Linked DNA regions of Homo sapiens: region 1 is linked to region 2. The links come from fine-mapping of genetic effects on gene expression. A gene starts in region 2. The other region holds a variant in brackets. All regions are shown on one strand. Distances are from middle to middle.

Region 1 (8,324 bases), 22 kb before region 2:
TGCTCTCACGGCCCTGTGGGTCACCCATCATGGCCCCCATCACCCTCTCTGTGACTGGCCATTTAAATGTCTGCCGCCTGCATTTGACTCCAGAAGACAAGTCCAGACCTGTCTAACTGGCCTGACACTGCTTTCTTAGTGTCTTATCTCAGAGGAGGCCTCTTCCAGTGACTTCTGTGGCAACTGGAGCAAAAGCCAGACTGCTCTTCATGTTCTCCAAGGCCTTGCTTGGTCTGGCCAGTGCCACATGTTTTCCAACATGCCAAATGCATGCCTGCCTCAGGACCTATGCATTTGCTGTTTCTTCTGCCTGGAATAAATGAAAAATAAATAAATACTTTTTTTTTTTTTTTTTTTGGAGATGGAGTCCTTTCTGTTGTGCAGGCTGGAGAGTAGTGGCACGACCTTGGCTCACTGCAACCTCTGCCTCCCGGGTTCAAGTGATCCTCCCACCTCAGCCTCCCAAGTAGCTGGGACTACAGGCATGTGCCACCATGCTCAGCTAATTTTTTTTTGTATTTTTATTAGGGATGGGATTTTGCCATGTTGCCCAGGCTGGTCTCAAACTCCTGGCCTCAAGTGATCCGCCTGCCTCAGTCTCCCAAAGTGCTAAAATTACAGGCATGAGCCACAGTGCCCAGCCATAAATACAATAATTTTTTTTTTTTAAAGAAAATTTAGGCCGGGTGTGGTGGCTCACACCTGTAATCCCAGCACTTTGGGAGGCCAAGGCGGGTGGATCACGAGGTCAGGAGATCAAGACCATCCTGGCTAACATGGTGAAACCCCGTCTCTACTAAAAATACAAAAAATTAGCCAGGCATGGTGTCAGGCGCCTATAGTCCCAGCTACTTGGGAGGCTGAAGCAGGAGAATGGCGTGAACCCAGGAGGTGGAGCTTGCAGTGAGCCGAGATCGTGCCACTGCACTCCAGCCTGGGCGACAGAGTGAGCATCTCAAAAAAGAAAAAAGAAAATTTAGTGCTTTGTTGATTTAAATAAAATTATCCTTGGTATTTTAGTGAGGAAATACTTCAAAGCATGACTTTACCTATCTCAAAAGCAGATATTGTTATGTGCTATTAGGATATCTGGACACCCTGCCACCATAGGAGTTTGCCCTTGCAGGCATTACTAAATCGCTTCCTTCACCCAAAACATATCATGGCCATGAGTTGTGACTGCCAAGGAATGTGCCTTGCTAGTTTGAAGATGCAGTTGATTTTATTATTTTATTATTTTATTTTATTTTTTGAGACAGAGTGTCACACTGTCACCCAAGCTGGAGTGCAGTGACACGATCTCAGCTCACTGCAAACTCTGCCTCCCGGGCTCAAGCAATTCTCCTGCCTCAGCCTCTCAAGTAGCTGGGATTACAGGTGCCCACCATCATGCCCAACTAATTGTTGTACTTTTAATAGAGATGGGGTTTCTCCATGTTGGCCAGGCTGGCTTTGAACTCCTGACCTCAGGTGATCCGCCCACCTCAGCCTCCCAAAGTGCTGGGATTACAGGCATGAGCCACTGTGCCCAGCCACAATTGATTTTAAAATGGTGTCACCCTGACTCTGTTATGCTCCTGTTTCCCTAACAGTGTCACCATGGACCCAGCCTCTTGCCATCTTTGCACTCTGCCAATGTCAGTGTGTTGGCAAAGTGAGTTTAAAATTGTAGTCATTCATCTAGCCAAAGTGATGATTCAAATATTTCAAAAAGCAAACTTTTACTCTTTCATAGAGAGGAGACTGAATTTTCCAAACAATCAAAATGTCACGTGCGTCTGTGTGAAGAGACCACCAAACAGGCTTTGTGTGAGCAACAAAGCTGTTTATTTCACCTGGGTGCAGGCGGGCTGAGTCCGAAAAGAGAGTCAGCAAAGGGTGGTGGGTTTATTATTAGTTCTTATAGGTTTTGGGATAGGCGGTGGAGTTAGGAGCAATGTTTTGCAGGCAGGGGTTGGATCTCACAAAGTACATTCTCAAGGGTGGGGAGAATTACAAAGAACCTTCTTAAGGGTCGGGGGGGGGGTTACAAAGAACCTTCTTAAGGGTGGGGGAGATTATAAAATACATTGATCAGTTAGGGTGGGGCAGAAACAAATCACAATGGTGGAAAGTCATCAGTTAAGGCTATTTTCACTTCTTTTGTGGATCTTCAGTTGCTTCAGGCCATCTGGATGTATACAGGCAGGTCACAGGGGATATGATGGCTTAGCTTGGGCTCAGAGGCCTGACATTCCTGTCTTCTTATATTAATAAGAAAAGCAAAACAAAATAGTGGTGAAGTGTTGGAGTGGCGAAAAATTTTGGGGCTGGTATGGAGAGATAATGGGCAATGTTTCTCAGGGCTGCTTCGAGTGGGATTGGGGCAGCATGGGAACCTACAGTGGGAGAGATTCAACTGAAGAAAGATTTTGGGGTAAGGGGTGGTATTGTGGGGTTGTTAGAAGGAGCATTTGTCATACAGAATTATTGGTGATGGCCTGGATGCGGTTTTGTGTGAATTGAGAAACTAAATGAAAGACACAAGGTCTGAATAAAAGGAGAGAAATAGGTATTAAAGGACTAAGAAGTGGGAGGACCCAGGACATCCAATTAGAGAGTGCCCAAGGCTGTTCAGCGTAATTACTTGCTTGGTTGTTGAGTTTTTGGGCTGTATCCTTGACAGAGTCCTCCTTTTTAAGTTGGAGGCTGAGCTTGGTGAGGTGTGTCTTGAAAAGACCATTAGTCCGTTCCATCTTTCCTGAAGATTGAGGACGGTAAGGGGTATGAAGTTTCTACTGAATACCAAGAGCCTGAGAAACGGCTTGGGTGATTTGACTAATAAAGGCCAATCCGTTATCAGACTGTATAGAGGTGGGAAGGCCAAACTGAGGAATTATGTCTGACAGAAGGGAAGAAATGACCATGATGGCCTTCTCAGACCCTGTGGGAAAGGCCTCTACCCATCCAGTGAAAGTGTCTACCTAGACCAAGAGGTATTTTAGTTTCCTGACTCGGGACATGTGAGTAAAGTCAATTTGCCAGTCCTGGGCAGGGGCAAATCCCCAAGCTGGATGTGTAGGGAAGGGAGGGGGCCTGAACAATCCCTGAGGAGTAGTAGAATAGCAGATGGAACACTGAGAAGTGATTTCCTTGAGGATAGATTTCCATGATGGAAAGGAAATGAGAGGTTCTAAGAGTCGGGCTAGCGGCTTGTAACCTACATGGAAGAGGTTATGAAATGATGACAGAATAGAATGGGCCTGTGAGGCTGGAAGGAGATATTTTTCTTGGTCCAAGAACCATTTGCCTTGTGTGGGAAGATATTGATAGGTGGAAGTTTCAGCAGGAGAGTAGGTGGGAGTGACCCATGAGGAGGAGAAAAACTGTCTGTGAGGGACAGAAGTTGGAATGCTAGCTCTTTCTTTAGCTACCTTATCAGCATAAGCGTTGCCCTGAACGATGGGATCTGATGCCTTTTGGTGGCCCTTGCAGTGTATGACTCCAGTTTCCTTTGGAAGTAAAGCGGCCTTGAGAAGAGTTTTTATTAAAGAGGCAATAATGATGGAGGACCCTTGCGTAGTGAGGAAACCTCTTTCAGCCCATTTAACACCATGGTGGTGCAGGATATGGAAGGCATATTTAGAGTCAGTATAAATATTGATGCGTAGTGCGTAGTTCCTTTGCAAGAGTGAGGGCTCGAGTTAAGGCAATGAGTTCAGCTTGCTGAGAGGTAGTGGAGGTG[G/C]GCAGAGTGGTAGCCTCAATGATAGATGTGGAAGATACTATAGCATAGCCTGCCTTTGCTGGTGTGTGGCGATTAGGCCTAGTGGAACTGCCATCAATATACCAGGTGTGATCAGGGTGAGGAACAGGAAAGAAGGAAATGTGGGGAAATAGAGTGAATGTCAGGTGTATCATAGAGATACAGTCATGGGGGTCACGTGTGGTATCAGGAATAATGTGGGAGGCTGGATTGAAGTCCGGGCCAGGAACAATGGTAACTGTGGGAGACTCAACAAAGAGTGAGTACAGCTGAAGGAGCCGGGGAGCAGACAGTATATGTGTCAGGTGTGAGGAAGAAAATAGATTTTGGAAGTTATAAGAACTGTAGAGAGTGAGTTGAGCATAGTTTGTGATTTTGAGGGCCTCCAAAAGTATTAGGGCAGCAGCGGCCACCGCATGGAGACATGATAGCCAGCCTAAAACAGTAAGGTCAAGTTGTTTGGACAAAAAGCCTATAGGGTGCGGTCCCAGTCCTTGTGTACGAATTCCAACTGCACAGCCCTACACTTCGGCTGCGTGTAATGAAAAGGGTTGAGATGAGCCAGGGAGAGCTAGTGTGGGAGCAGTCTCTAAAACTGTCTTCAAGGAACAGAAAGAGGAGTGGGGAAAGGATTGAGAATCTATGGAGTCAGCTAGGTTTCCTTTTGTGAGTTTATACAATGGTTTTGTTAGGATGGCAAAACCAGGTATCCAAAGACAAAAGTATCCAACCACGCCCAGGAAGTAAAGGAGTTGTTGTTTTGTAGAAGGGCCTGGGGTTTGAGAGATCAGTCGGACACGATCCGCAGGGAGAGCGCATGTGTTGTTATGAAGAATTATGCTGAGGTAGGTAATGGATGGAGAAGAAATTTGAGCTTTGGACAGGGATACCCAATATCCCTTGGAGAATAAATGTTGAAGGAGCAGGAGGGTGTCTTGTTGAGAAGATTCAAAGGAGGGGCTACAAAGTAGAAGGTCATCAATATATTGAATAAGGCAAGAAGCAGAGGGGTGGAAAGAAAGTAAATCATAAGAAAGAGCTTGGCTGAAGTAATGAGGGCTGGCCCTGAAGCCTTGCGGCAGTACAGCCCAGGTAAGCTGCTGGGACTGATGGGTGTCAGGATCGGTCCAGGTAAAAGCAAAGAGAGGCTGGGACAAGGGGTGTAGGAGAATAGTGAAAAAAAGCATTTTAAAGATCAAGAATGGAATAGTGAGTTGTGGAGGAAGATATTGAGGACAAAAGAGCGTACGGGTTGGGCACCACAGGGTGGATAGGCAAAACAATTTGGTTGATAAGGCACAGATCCTGAACTAACCTGTAAGACTTGTCCGGTTTTTGAACAGGTAAAATGGGAGAATTGTAAGGAGAGTTTATAGGTTTTAGAAGCCCATGCTGTAGCAGGCAAGTGATAACAGGATTTAATCCCCTTAAAGCCTGTTGTGGGATGTGATACTGGCATTGAGTGGGGTAAGCGTGATTAGGTTTTAATGGGATAGTAATGGGCATGTGATTGGTTGCCAGGGAGGGAGTGGAGGTGTCCCATATTTGTGGGTTAAGGTCGGGGGATATGAGAGGAAGACCCAAAGGAGGCTTTGGGTTGGGAAGAAGGGGGCAATGAGATGTGGCTGTAGTACAGGAATAATCAGGGAAGCAGATAATTTGGTTAAAATGTCTCAGCCTAATAAGGAAGCTGGGCAGGTGGGGATAACTGAAAAAGAGTGCATAAAAGAACGTTGTCCAAGTTGGCACCAGAGTGGGGGAGTTTTAAGGGGTTTTGAAGCTTGGCCATCAATACCCACAACAGTTATGGGGGCGAGGGAAACAGGCCCTTGAAAAGAAGATAATGTGGAGTGGGTAGCCCCCATATCGATTAAACGGGATGGACTTACCCTCCACTTTAAGAGTTACCCGAAGCTCAGCGTCTGTGATGGTCCAGGAGGCTTCTGAGGCGATCGGGCTACGTCAGTCTTCAGCTGCTAAGCCGAGGAGATCTGGGAAGGAGTCGGCCAAGGAACATAGGGTTTGGGCTCCAGGGGCTTTAGGAGTGGCAGTGATGTGAGTCGGACAGTCCGACCTCCAGCGGGGGCCCGCACAGACAGGGCACGGCTTAGGAGGAATCCCGGGCTGCGGGCATTCTGAGGCCCAGTGGCCAGGCTTTTAGCATTTGAAGCAAGGTCCACGAGGATGTTTTGAAGGAGCCCCTGGGAGCTGTGGCTTGGATGTTCTGAAGTTCTTGTATGCTGGAGACGTGGTTGTGGGCTGTCTTACAGCGGAGGCGAGCAGCTGTAACTCAGAAATGCGTTGCTGCCTGGCTACCTCCTCTGTATTATTGTACACTTTGAAGGGGAGGTTGATTAATTCGTGTTGTGGGGTTTGAGGGCCGGATTCCAATTTTTAAAGCTTTTTTCTAATGTCAGGAGCTGGGTGATAAAATGCATATTAAGAATAAGGCGGCCTTCTGGCCCCTCTGGGTCTAGGGCGGTAAAGTGTGTAAGGGTTGCTGCCGAGCGGGCCATGAACTGAGCTGGGTTTTCGTCTTTACCTTGGGTAGTTTCTCTAAGTTTGTCATAATTAACAGCTTTGTAAGCTGCCTTTTTAAGCCCTTCAACTAGGCAGGAAACCATGTAATCTCGCCTAGCCATACCTGGGGAATCTGCCTGATAGTTCCATTGGGGGTCCTCTCGGGGAACTGCTCTACTGCCTTCCTGGAGGTCAGGTTCATGAAGCCGGCGGTTATCAGCGTGAGATTGGGCTAGAGAAAAAACTCTTTCCCGTTCATCTGGGGAGAGGGTAGAAGTCAGGATGACATTTCAGTCACTCCAGGTTAAACTGTAGGACAGAGTTAGATATCGGGATTCCTGTATATATTTAGTGGGGTCTGATGAGAAAGAGCCTAAATGCTGGCTGATTTGGGAAAGGTCTGATAGAGAAAAAGGCACATGTACCCTGACTATGCCTTCAGCTCCAGCCACCTCTCTAAGAGGAAATTGTTGGGCAGGTGGGGGAGAGCTAGCCGCAGAACGAAACTGAAAACCAGACTGGGTGTGGGGAGGGCGGGTAATAGAAGGGTTATAGGATGTGGGAGCAGAGGCTGAAGAAGAGTTGGAGGCTGATTCAGCCTGGTGGGGAGCGAGCTGAGGAGGAGCAGTCTGGGAAGAAGGTGAGACGTCAGATGGTTCAGTAGAAAAGGAAGATTCACAAGACTCAGCGACGCTTGGGGTTGGGACTGAAGGGACAGGTGGGAGGGAAAGAAGGAGGATTTGGGACGAGTCGCATTGGGAACAGAGACTAGGGAGGGAACGAAGTGTGAAAAATGCCTGGACGTAAGACACCTCAGACCATTTGCCCATTTTTCAACAAAAATTATCTAGGTCTTGTAGGACGGAGAAATGAAAAGTGCCATTTTCTGGCCATTTAGAACCATTGTTAGTTTGTATTGGGGCCAAGTGGTGTTGCAGAAGAAAATAAGATGCTTAGATTTTAGGTCAGGTGAGAGTTGAAGAGGTTTTAAGTTCTTGAGAACATAGGCTAAGGGAGAAGAAGGAGGAATGGAGGGTGGAAGTTTGCCCATAGTGAAGGAGGCAAGTTTAAAGAGAAGGGTAGAGATATGGAGAAGGGGGTGGGGAGCAGCCCTGGGCTGCAATGTGGGTGAGCAGCCAAAGCAGGCGTCCCCGCAATTGACTTGCCACCAAGGGAATGTGGGTGAATGACCAAAGCAGGCGTCCCTGCGGTGATCGGACACCAATGGAATGTGGGTGAATAATCAGGCAGGCGTCCCCGCAGTGATTAAATGGCAAGGGAAGACTGTCTTCCTGAGTCTGTGACCGGCCCTGGAGTTTTGGGTTCACGGATAAAATGTGTCTCCTTTGTCTCTACTGGAGAGGAAAAAGAACTGGAATTGGAAGGACAGAGAGATTGAAGGGTAGCAAGAGAGGCTGGAGAAGAGAGTGAAAAGACCACTTACCCAATTTGAAATTGGTGAGATGTTCCTTGGGCTGGTTGATCTGAGGACCCGAGGTCGTAAGTGGATCTCTTCACGGAGTGAGGGTGAGGACAGGGGACTGGTCTCCCGAAGGAGTCCCTCTGACCCGGGTCTTCAGCACCAAATGTCACACGCATCTGTGTGAAGAGACCACCAAACAGGCTTTGTGTGAGCAACAAGGCTGTTTATTTCACCTGGATGCAGGCGGGCTGAGTCCGAAAAGAGAGTCAGCAAAGGGTGGTGGGATTATCATTAGTTCTTACAGGTTTTGGGATAGGCAGTGGAGTTAGGAGCAATGTTTTGTGGGCAGCGGGTGGATCTCACAAAGTACATTCTCAAGGGTGGGGAGAATTACAAAGAACTTTCTTAAGGGTGGGGGAGATTACAAAGAACTTTCTTAAGTGGGGGGAGATTATAAAGTACATTGATCAGTTAGGGTGGGGCAGAAACAAATCACAATGGTGAAAGGTCATCAGTTAAGGCTATTTTCACTTCTTTTGTGGATCTTCAGTTGCTTCAGGCCATCTGGATGTATACATGCAGGTCACAGGGGATATGACGGCTTAGCTTGGGCTCAGAGGCCTGACACAAAAGACCTGA
Region 2 (8,324 bases):
CGGCAGGAGGCCAGGCACGGTAGCTCATGCCTGTAACGCCAACACTTTGGGAGGCCAAGGTGGGTGGATTATTTGAGGTCAGGAGTTCAAGACCAGCCTGGCCAACATGGTAAAACCAAGTTTCTACTAAAAATACAAAAATTAGCCGGGCATAGTGGTGGGTGCCTGTAATTCCAGCTACTCCAGAGGCTGAGGCATGAGAATTGCTTGAGCCCAGGAGGTGGAGGTTGCAGTGAGCTGGGATTGCACCACTGCACTCCACCCTGGGCGACAGAGTGAGACTCTGTCTCAAAATCAATCAATCAATCAATAGGCAAGAGGGAATCTGGAATGGGGAGGGTATGGAGAGGTGGGCCAGGAGGACTGACAGGAGATGTGGCCTTGGTAGAGAGACACAGTCAGCCCAGTGACTGTGCACCGAGGGAAAGGGGGAATGAATATCCTGACCTCTCTCCTCTCATCTGCTGTTCTCCTGCTGGTGCTCCCTGTTGACAAAACCCAACCAGAGCCAGAGGGCAGGAGAGCCCATTGGTCTCACCCACAGCAGCATGGCTGCCGGACACAGAGGAGCAGAGCAGCGTGCAGAAGGGTGGAGAGTGCACCTGCAGGGGCAAACAGAAGAACTGCATCACGCAGCCTGGCCCTTTGGATCTGACCCATTTGGAATGCAGAATTTTGATAGTCTAGGATCTGGGTAAAGGGTTTTCCAGGTGTCAGGATGGAAGTGACTAAGGTGCAGAGGCTGGAGGGCTGGGGCAGGTAGAAGCAAGCATTCCTGTTACCTACTGCTGTGTGACAATCTCCCCCTAAAACACAATGGCTTAAAATAACATCCATTTCATTACATATCTCAATACTATAGGTCAGGAATTTGGGCTGGGCTTACTTGGGTAATTCTTCTGTCCCACATGGCATTGACCAAAGCCTGGTTTTCAGTGGGCAGCTGGGCTGGATGGCCCAACACAGCTTCGCTAACATGATTGCTGTCTTCGTAGGGATGGTGGAAGCCTGGGCTCAGTGGGACTGTCAACTGGAATGGCCATATGTGGACTCTCTTAGCATGATGGTCTCTTCTAGAAGCTTGGGTTCCCAGAGAGAATGTTCAAGAGGCCCCAAAGGACACCACAAAGCTTCTTTATGACCAAGGCTCGGAAATCCAGGAAGCTTGCTCCCATCACGCTCTATTACTCCAACAAGTCACTCAGGCCAGCCCAGGTCCAAGAGGAGGAAACCTAGACTCCATCTTGCAATGTGAAGAATTGCAAATAATTTGTGTCACCCTTAAGCAACCAGCAACTCATCTAGGTTGATTGGCATTTCAGCAATGTGGTGGGAAGTGGTGGGACTGATGTTGAAGAGGGACTTGAATGTCATGAGAGGCTGGGGAGGCAATAAGGTGGGGAGTGAAGTTTCTCGAGTCAGATTCAAATTTAAACCCCAGTTTTGCCACTTACAACCCATGAGCCAAGCAGGCTGTCTCTCTATCTGAACCTCAGTGTCCTCATCTGTAAAATGAGGAGAACACCTCCTACATCTGAGGATGACTGTAAAGATGAAATGGGATGGGTGCTTATAAAGTGCTTCCCAGTGTACCTGGCTCCAAACCTGTCTCAGTAAATGGCAGCCCCTATTATTGAACCCGAGTAACACAGAGAGCCAAGAAAGGATCTTACAAAAAACTCCCCTGGCTTTGACAATGTATGAGACCCACTGATAGGGTTTGGCTTTGTGTCCTCACCCAAATCTCATCTAGTAGCTCCCATAATTCCTACATGTTGTGGGAGAGACTCGGCGGGAGATAATTGAATCATGGGGGATGGTCTTTCCCATGCTGTTCTTGTGATAGTAAATAAGTCTCACAAGATCTGATGGTTTTAAAAATGGGAGTTTCCCTGCAGGCGCTCTCTCTTTGTCTACTGCCATCCATGTAAGACGTGACTTGCTCCTCCTTTGCCTTCTGCCATGATTGCAAGGCCTCCCCACCATTGTGGAACTGTAAGTCTATTAAAGCCTCTTTCTTTTGTAAATTACCCAGTCTCAGGTATGTCTTTTTTTTTTTTTTCATGAGATGGAGTTTCGCTCTTGTTGCCCAGGCTGGAATGCAATGGTGTAATCTTGGCTCACCACAACCTCCACCTCCCAGGTTCAAGCGATTCTCCTGCCTCAGCCTCCCGAGTAGCTGGGATTACAGTCATACACCACCACGCCTGGCTAATTTTGTATTTTTTTTTTTTTTTTTAGTAGAGACGGGGTTTCACCATGTTGGTCAGGCTGGTCTCAAACTCCCGACCTCAGGTGATCCTCCTGCCTTGGCCTCCCAAAGTCCTGGGATTACAGGCATGAACCACTGCGCCCAGGCTCGGGTATGTCTTCATCAGTAGCATGAAAATAATGGACTAATACAGCCACCCTCTCCCTCACTCCCACATACAACCAAACCCCAAATCCAGCTGATTTTACACCCTAAATGCAGCTTGAATATGAGTTTCTCCACTTCCCCCACTGACATCACTATGCCCTACCCAGACCATGGCAGTTGCCTCCTTCCTGGTATCCTGTCCTCCCTCACCCCCGCTGGCCCCCTGTAATGCCCTCCCCTCACAGCAGGGAGCCCAGGCTTCTCAAAGTGCCCTGTGGGTGCGAACCACCTGGGGGTCCTGTTTGTATAAAATACAGATTCTACTTCAGTAGGTCTGGGATGGGGTCTGAAAGTCTGCATTTGTAGTCAGCTCCCAGGTGATGTGGGTGCTGATGATCCCTGGATCACACTTTCAGTAGCTGGAGAATATTTTTTCCAAATAAAAGGGTGATTTTGTCTCGCCTCCACTTAAAACACTCCACTGACTTCCTAGGAATCCCACACCATCGCTGGGTCCCACATCCCTGGCAGGATTCAGCTCCCATCAGACCTTCTAGCCCCTTGCTCTCCACTCTCCCACTCTCTCTTTCCCCCTTGTTTATGGGTTTGTTAATTTATTTATGATGAAATGAAATGAAGCTACCATCCACCCCAGTACTGGAACATTATCAATAACCTGTGTGTGGCCAGGCGTGGTGGCTCATGCCTGTAATCACGCCTTGGGAAGCCGAGGTGGGTGGATCATGTGAGGTCAGGTGTTCGAGACCAGCCTGGCCAACATGGTGAAACCCCGTCTCTACTACAAATCCAAAACTTAGCAGGGCACGGTGCCACGCGCCTGTAATCCCAGCTACTCGGGACGCTGAGGCCGAGAACTGCTTAAAATCCAGGAGGTGGAGGTTGCAGTGAGCCGAGATTTCGCCACTGCACTCCAGCCTGGGCGACAGAGCAAGAGTCCATCTCAAAAAAACAAAAACAAAAACAAAAAAACAAAAAACAAAAATTAGCCAGGCGTGGTTGTGGGCGCCTATAATCCCAGCTACTCGGGAGGCTGAGACAGGAAAATCGCTTGAAACGCTGGGGGTGCGGGGGAGCGGTGGGGAGGAGGCGGGCCAGAGGGGCAGAGGTTGCAGTGAGCCCAGATCGCGCCACTTCACTGCAGCCTCCGCGAAAGAGCGAAACTCCGTCTCAGTAAATAAATAAATAAATAAATAAATAAATAAATAAATAAATAAATAACCTGTACCCGCGTGTTATTTCCCTCCGTCCTTACCTCCTCCCGGCTCCTTCCCTTTCACCTGAGATAACCACTCTTCTCGTATCTATGCTCATCTTTCCCTTGCTTTACATTTTTTCCACCGATGCATGTGTCTAAACATACATACTTTTGGTTTTGCTTTTACACATTCTAAAAGTTGCACCATTGTATGCAGTTTTCCGCAACTTAGTTTTTTTCACTCAACATTGTTTCTGAGACATTGTTTCTGTTGTTGTCTGGCTGAAGTTCATTCCGTTTCACTGCTGTCTAACGTTTCATGGTGTGAATATTCCGGTTTATTTGCCCACTCGCCCGTGGAGGGGCATTTGAGGGTGTTTCCAATGTTCCTGTTATTCGGAATAGCGCTGGTGTGAACATTCTGCACAGGTCTCTGGCTGCGCCTGGGCGGGTTTCTTAAAGGTGAATGCCCAGGAGGGGACTGTCTGTGTTCTCCCTCCCTCCGAGCTCCAGCCTTCCTCGCCTCCTTTCACTCCCAGCTCCCTGGAGTCTCTCACGTAGAATGTCCTCTCCACCCCCACCCACCCCTGATGAACTCCTGCAGGTTCTGCAGGCCACGGCTGGCCCCCCTCGAAAGTTCCTTAACTATACAATTATGGTGTGTGTTTCTGCGACGAGCGTCCGTCTATCCGGTGGAAGGCACGCCGCTCGAGGCTTGCGATGCTCCCGGGGTCCCCGCTTCTAGCTTGGGCCTGGCGCACAGCAGCGCCCAGACTGCAGGGGGACGCTTGAAAGTTGCTGGAGGAGCCGGGGGGAAGGCAGCGCCCAGCGAGGCGGCTGGAGCGCGCGCCCACAGGTGGGTCCGGTCGGGCGCCGCGGGGCCGTAGTTTTCGGGTCGGCGGGCGAGGACGCCGGGTCCAGAATTCCAGGAAATGCGCGATCCAGGCCGGCGGGCGGGGCGGGGGCTCCGGCGAGAGGGCGGGCCCCGGGAACGGCGGCGGGCGGGGCGGGAGGCGGGGCCCGGCCCGTTAAGAAGAGCGTGGCCGGCCGCGGCCACCGCTGGCCCCAGGGAAAGCCGAGCGGCCACCGAGCCGGCAGAGACCCACCGAGCGGCGGCGGAGGGAGCAGCGCCGGGGCGCACGAGGGCACCATGGCCCAGACGCCCGCCTTCGACAAGCCCAAAGTGAGCGCGCGCGGGGGCTCCGGGGACGGGGGTCCGGCGCCTGGGCGGCCCGAGGGGCTTAGCGGGGCCCAGCCCGGGGCGTCCAAACCCTGGGAACGAACGGGGGCTCCTGCAGGCGAGTTCTTCCTTCGGCTTAGGCCGTGGCTTGCTTGCGGGCTAATCAGGGACAATGGGGCAGAGAAGGTCCAGAACCCGGAGGCCTCCAGAGTCTGCTTCTGCCCCTGACTTGACCCCTCTGGGTCTCAGTTTCGCTGTCTGTCAAGTGGGCATCCTAGCACCGCTGAGCGCTGTGTGGGCCTGGGCAGGGACTTGAGGTCTCTGAAGCTCAGCTGTATGATCAGGCCCGATGTCTACGCCGGATAGGCACCTAGTGCTGTGCCCGGCGCCTACTGAGTGCTCAGTGAATGGAAGCAGCTTTGTACGCCAGCGTTATGGTGGTGAGCGCCAAGGAGCTCAGGTTTGTGGATGCGCCCCGGGGAAGAACCGTGAGCCCTGCCAGAAAGGGGAGGGAGGGGAGCAGAGCACCCCCCTTCCCCCGCGCGGGAAGAACAGGAGCTAGGTAGGCCCTGGGTTTGGGGCCCTAGCAGGGTTCACTCGAGGCCAAGCCATGGCCACTGGCCCCAGGGGAGAATCCCCTTGTTTCTCCGCCCACCAGCTGTGGCGTCTTGGGACTGTTGGGGTCAGGGAGGGTCTGGACCCCCTTGGCCTGTCGCAGAGTCCGAGAGGAGGGGCCCAGGAGTCTGCCAAGCAGGGTGAGTCAGCCAGTAGGGTGTGAGAGTGGTTGGGGAAGGAGTCAGCTGCAGTCAGCCTCAACTTACCCTTCTAAGAAATAGGTGTGAGTGGCCCAGGAGGTTGGCTCACGCCTGTAATCCCAGCACTTTGTGAGGCTGAGGCGGGAGGATCATTTGAGTCCAGGAGTTTGAGACTAGCCTGGACAACAAAACTAGACCCCGTCTCTCCAAAAAATAAAAAAAGTTAGGGGAAGTGTGTGTGGTGGTGCACTCCCGTAGTCCCAGCTACTCAGGAGGCTGAGGCGGGAGGATCGCTTGAGCCCAGGAGGTTGAGGCTGCAGTGAGGTGTGATGGTGCCACTGCACTTCAGCCTGGGAGACAGAGCGAGACCCTGTCTCAAAAAAAAGAGAAGAAAAAGAAAAGAAAAGAAATAGGTGTGAATGATGATGACAGCTATCACAAAAGTGCCGGTGAGAATCCAGTGAGTGTGCATGTGTCAGTGAGGGAGACAGGCTGTGGAGAGCCCACCTACCTTCTGAGGAGGGTGAGGCCTGGCCCCCACTACTGATGCCCCCAGCCCAGGGAAAATGCTCAGCTACTCCCCGTCAGAAGCTGGAAGCACTGAGGTGCTGTACAAGCCCTCCTACCCCCACCCCTGCCTCCTTCACGTCTTACTGGAGCTGGGGCCCATGATTGGCGCCTCCCCTTTGCAGTCTTTTTATTAAATGCTCTGGGCTCCCTCTGCCCTTGGGCTGGGGACCCACTGTACCCTGATGTGAATCCTATGGCAATAGCAAAGCTCTTTGATTGGCGGGGTGCAGTGGCTCACGCCTATAATCCCAGCACTTTGGGAGGCAAAGGTGGGTGGATCATGAGGCCAGGAGTTCGAGACCAGCCTGGCCAACATGGCAAAACCCCATTTCTACTAAAAATATAAAAAATTAGCTGGGCATGGTGGCGGGCGCCTGTAGTCCCAGCTACGCAGAAGGCTGAGGCAGGAGAATGGCATAAACCCAGGAGGTGGAGCTTGCAGTGAGCCGAGATCTCGCCATTGCACTCCAGCCTGGGTGACAGAGTGAGACGCTGTCTCAAAAAAAAAAAAAAAAAAAAAAAGGCTCCTTGATTGCGAACATGTTGGGAGTTATGGAGAGAACAGCAGGGCCCACTTCTAGAGCACTTGTTGCAGACACCCATTGGATCCTTGCAGTTCTTCTGTAACAGCCCATCAAGGGAGGGGCTCATATTATTATCCCCATTTTTTGGCCTTGCTCAGTCCTCCCATCTGATTCAAGCTGGCAGATCATTTTCCCTATTGGGACCTCAGTGTCCACACCTGGAGGATGGAACATCAGCTGCTTATGTGGGTGTCCCGTGTCCTGAGTCCCAAGGCCACAAGGTGATGCTTGAGAGTGAAGGTAGAATGTTACCTGCCATGTGTTTGAGGCGTGACAAATCTTGTATGATTGTGAGGAGGAACTTGTGTGAGCTGGCAGGAGAAGTGGGAAGGAGTGTGAATCTCAGAGCCACTGTGACCAGAGCCAGCTCCCTGCCCTCTTGTGGGAGGGACAGATGACAGTTATAATTATTAGCATTACTAGCTGCAGCTAATGGAGTGTTGATGTTTCTGTGCCAGGCACCGTTCTAAACACATTATCTGCATTTTTTATTTAATCCAGGCACAGAGAGGTTAACTAGGCCCAAGATCACACAGCTAGGAAATGTCCAATCTGGGGTTTGAGTCCAAGGGAGGCTGGCTTCGAAATCCCATGCCTCTAACCATCTTTCCTAAACTACCTCTGCAGAAGCCTTTGGGGATAGAGGTGCCAGTGCCCCAGGTGCAAACCTCCTGAGACAGGAGCCTTTGCTGTGTCCTTCAGCTTCTCATACCTGCCACCAGCTGAGGCCTGGGACCTGGTCAGCTAGAAGAAAGCAGAGCAGGGCAGCGCTTTTCAAACTGCACTCAAGTGGCCTGACTTTTAATGTTCACACTGTGATTCTGTGTGGGTCGGGTTGGGGCCTGCGATGCTGCACTGCTGACCAGCTCCCAGGAAATGCTAATGTCAACGATCCAGGAACACACTTTGCTTAGCAAGGCCCTAGGCAGCTGCCTTCTGTTGTGCGGGACCCCTATTGACTCCAATGGATATAGCACCAGGTTCAAGAGGCTACCTTCTTTGGAAGAGGTAGCAAACAAGATACGGGGTTTTACTGGGGGCTTAGACACAGGGAAGAGAGTCCAGTGGCGGCAGACTGAGCAGAAGAACCGCAACCACTTGCAAATCATGCAGTTTATGTAGCATTTTCATTTAACACCTTCTCCCAACCATCTCCACCTAGTAACCTTCATTTAACCCAAAACAAAGGGCCTCGGTCCCTATACCCCTGTATGGTCAGTGTCCCGTGGGAATGGGGTGGGGCTCAGATGTTCCTCATAGATAACGACTGGATCTCCAGGTTGGCCACTCTTGGATTCCTTCGCTCAGAACTCTGAACACCCATTCAAGTGTGCCTGCCATGCAGGGTCATCGTCAGGGGATGCCCAAGTCAAGTTTGCCCTGTCGGGTGTGCCTCCCATACCCCCACCTGGTTTGACTTAGCACCTGCTGGGCACTGGAAGAAGTGGAAAGGGGGGTTGCAGGGGTGGCCCTTATCAGCCTATGTTCACAGGTGGCACCAGGCACTCAGGCATTCTGCATCCTGGAGGCCAGTGCTGATCACATGCCTGTTACAATAATCATAACAATAGCTGTCCTTGAAGTAGTCCTGGGTACCAGGTGCCTTCAGTGACTTTTTCTTTTTTGCCAGAATCTCACTCTGTCGCCCAAGCTGGAGTGC

Evidence for each region. PIP is the estimated chance that this variant, and not a neighbour inherited with it, causes the effect.
Region 1: its variant is fine-mapped to the expression of ADA in blood mononuclear cells (TOPMed, PIP above 0.99).

What each region holds. Positions count from the first base shown.
Region 1 is chr20:44,670,217-44,678,540 of GRCh38, reverse strand. LINC01260 (long intergenic non-protein coding RNA 1260) reads left to right here and starts at 6,802. Exons shown (of 5, transcript NR_034104.1): 1 at 6,802-6,902. RefSeq lists enhancers at 1-73, 74-574, 7,062-7,561, 7,562-8,063. The variant G/C (reference allele first, on the strand shown) is at 3,725.
Region 2 is chr20:44,648,009-44,656,332 of GRCh38, reverse strand. It overlaps ADA (adenosine deaminase), which reads left to right and starts at 4,634. Exons shown (of 12, transcript NM_000022.4): 1 at 4,634-4,758. The coding sequence starts at 4,726. RefSeq lists silencers at 4,436-4,825, 8,298-8,324 and enhancers at 3,862-4,845, 5,076-5,185, 7,775-8,275.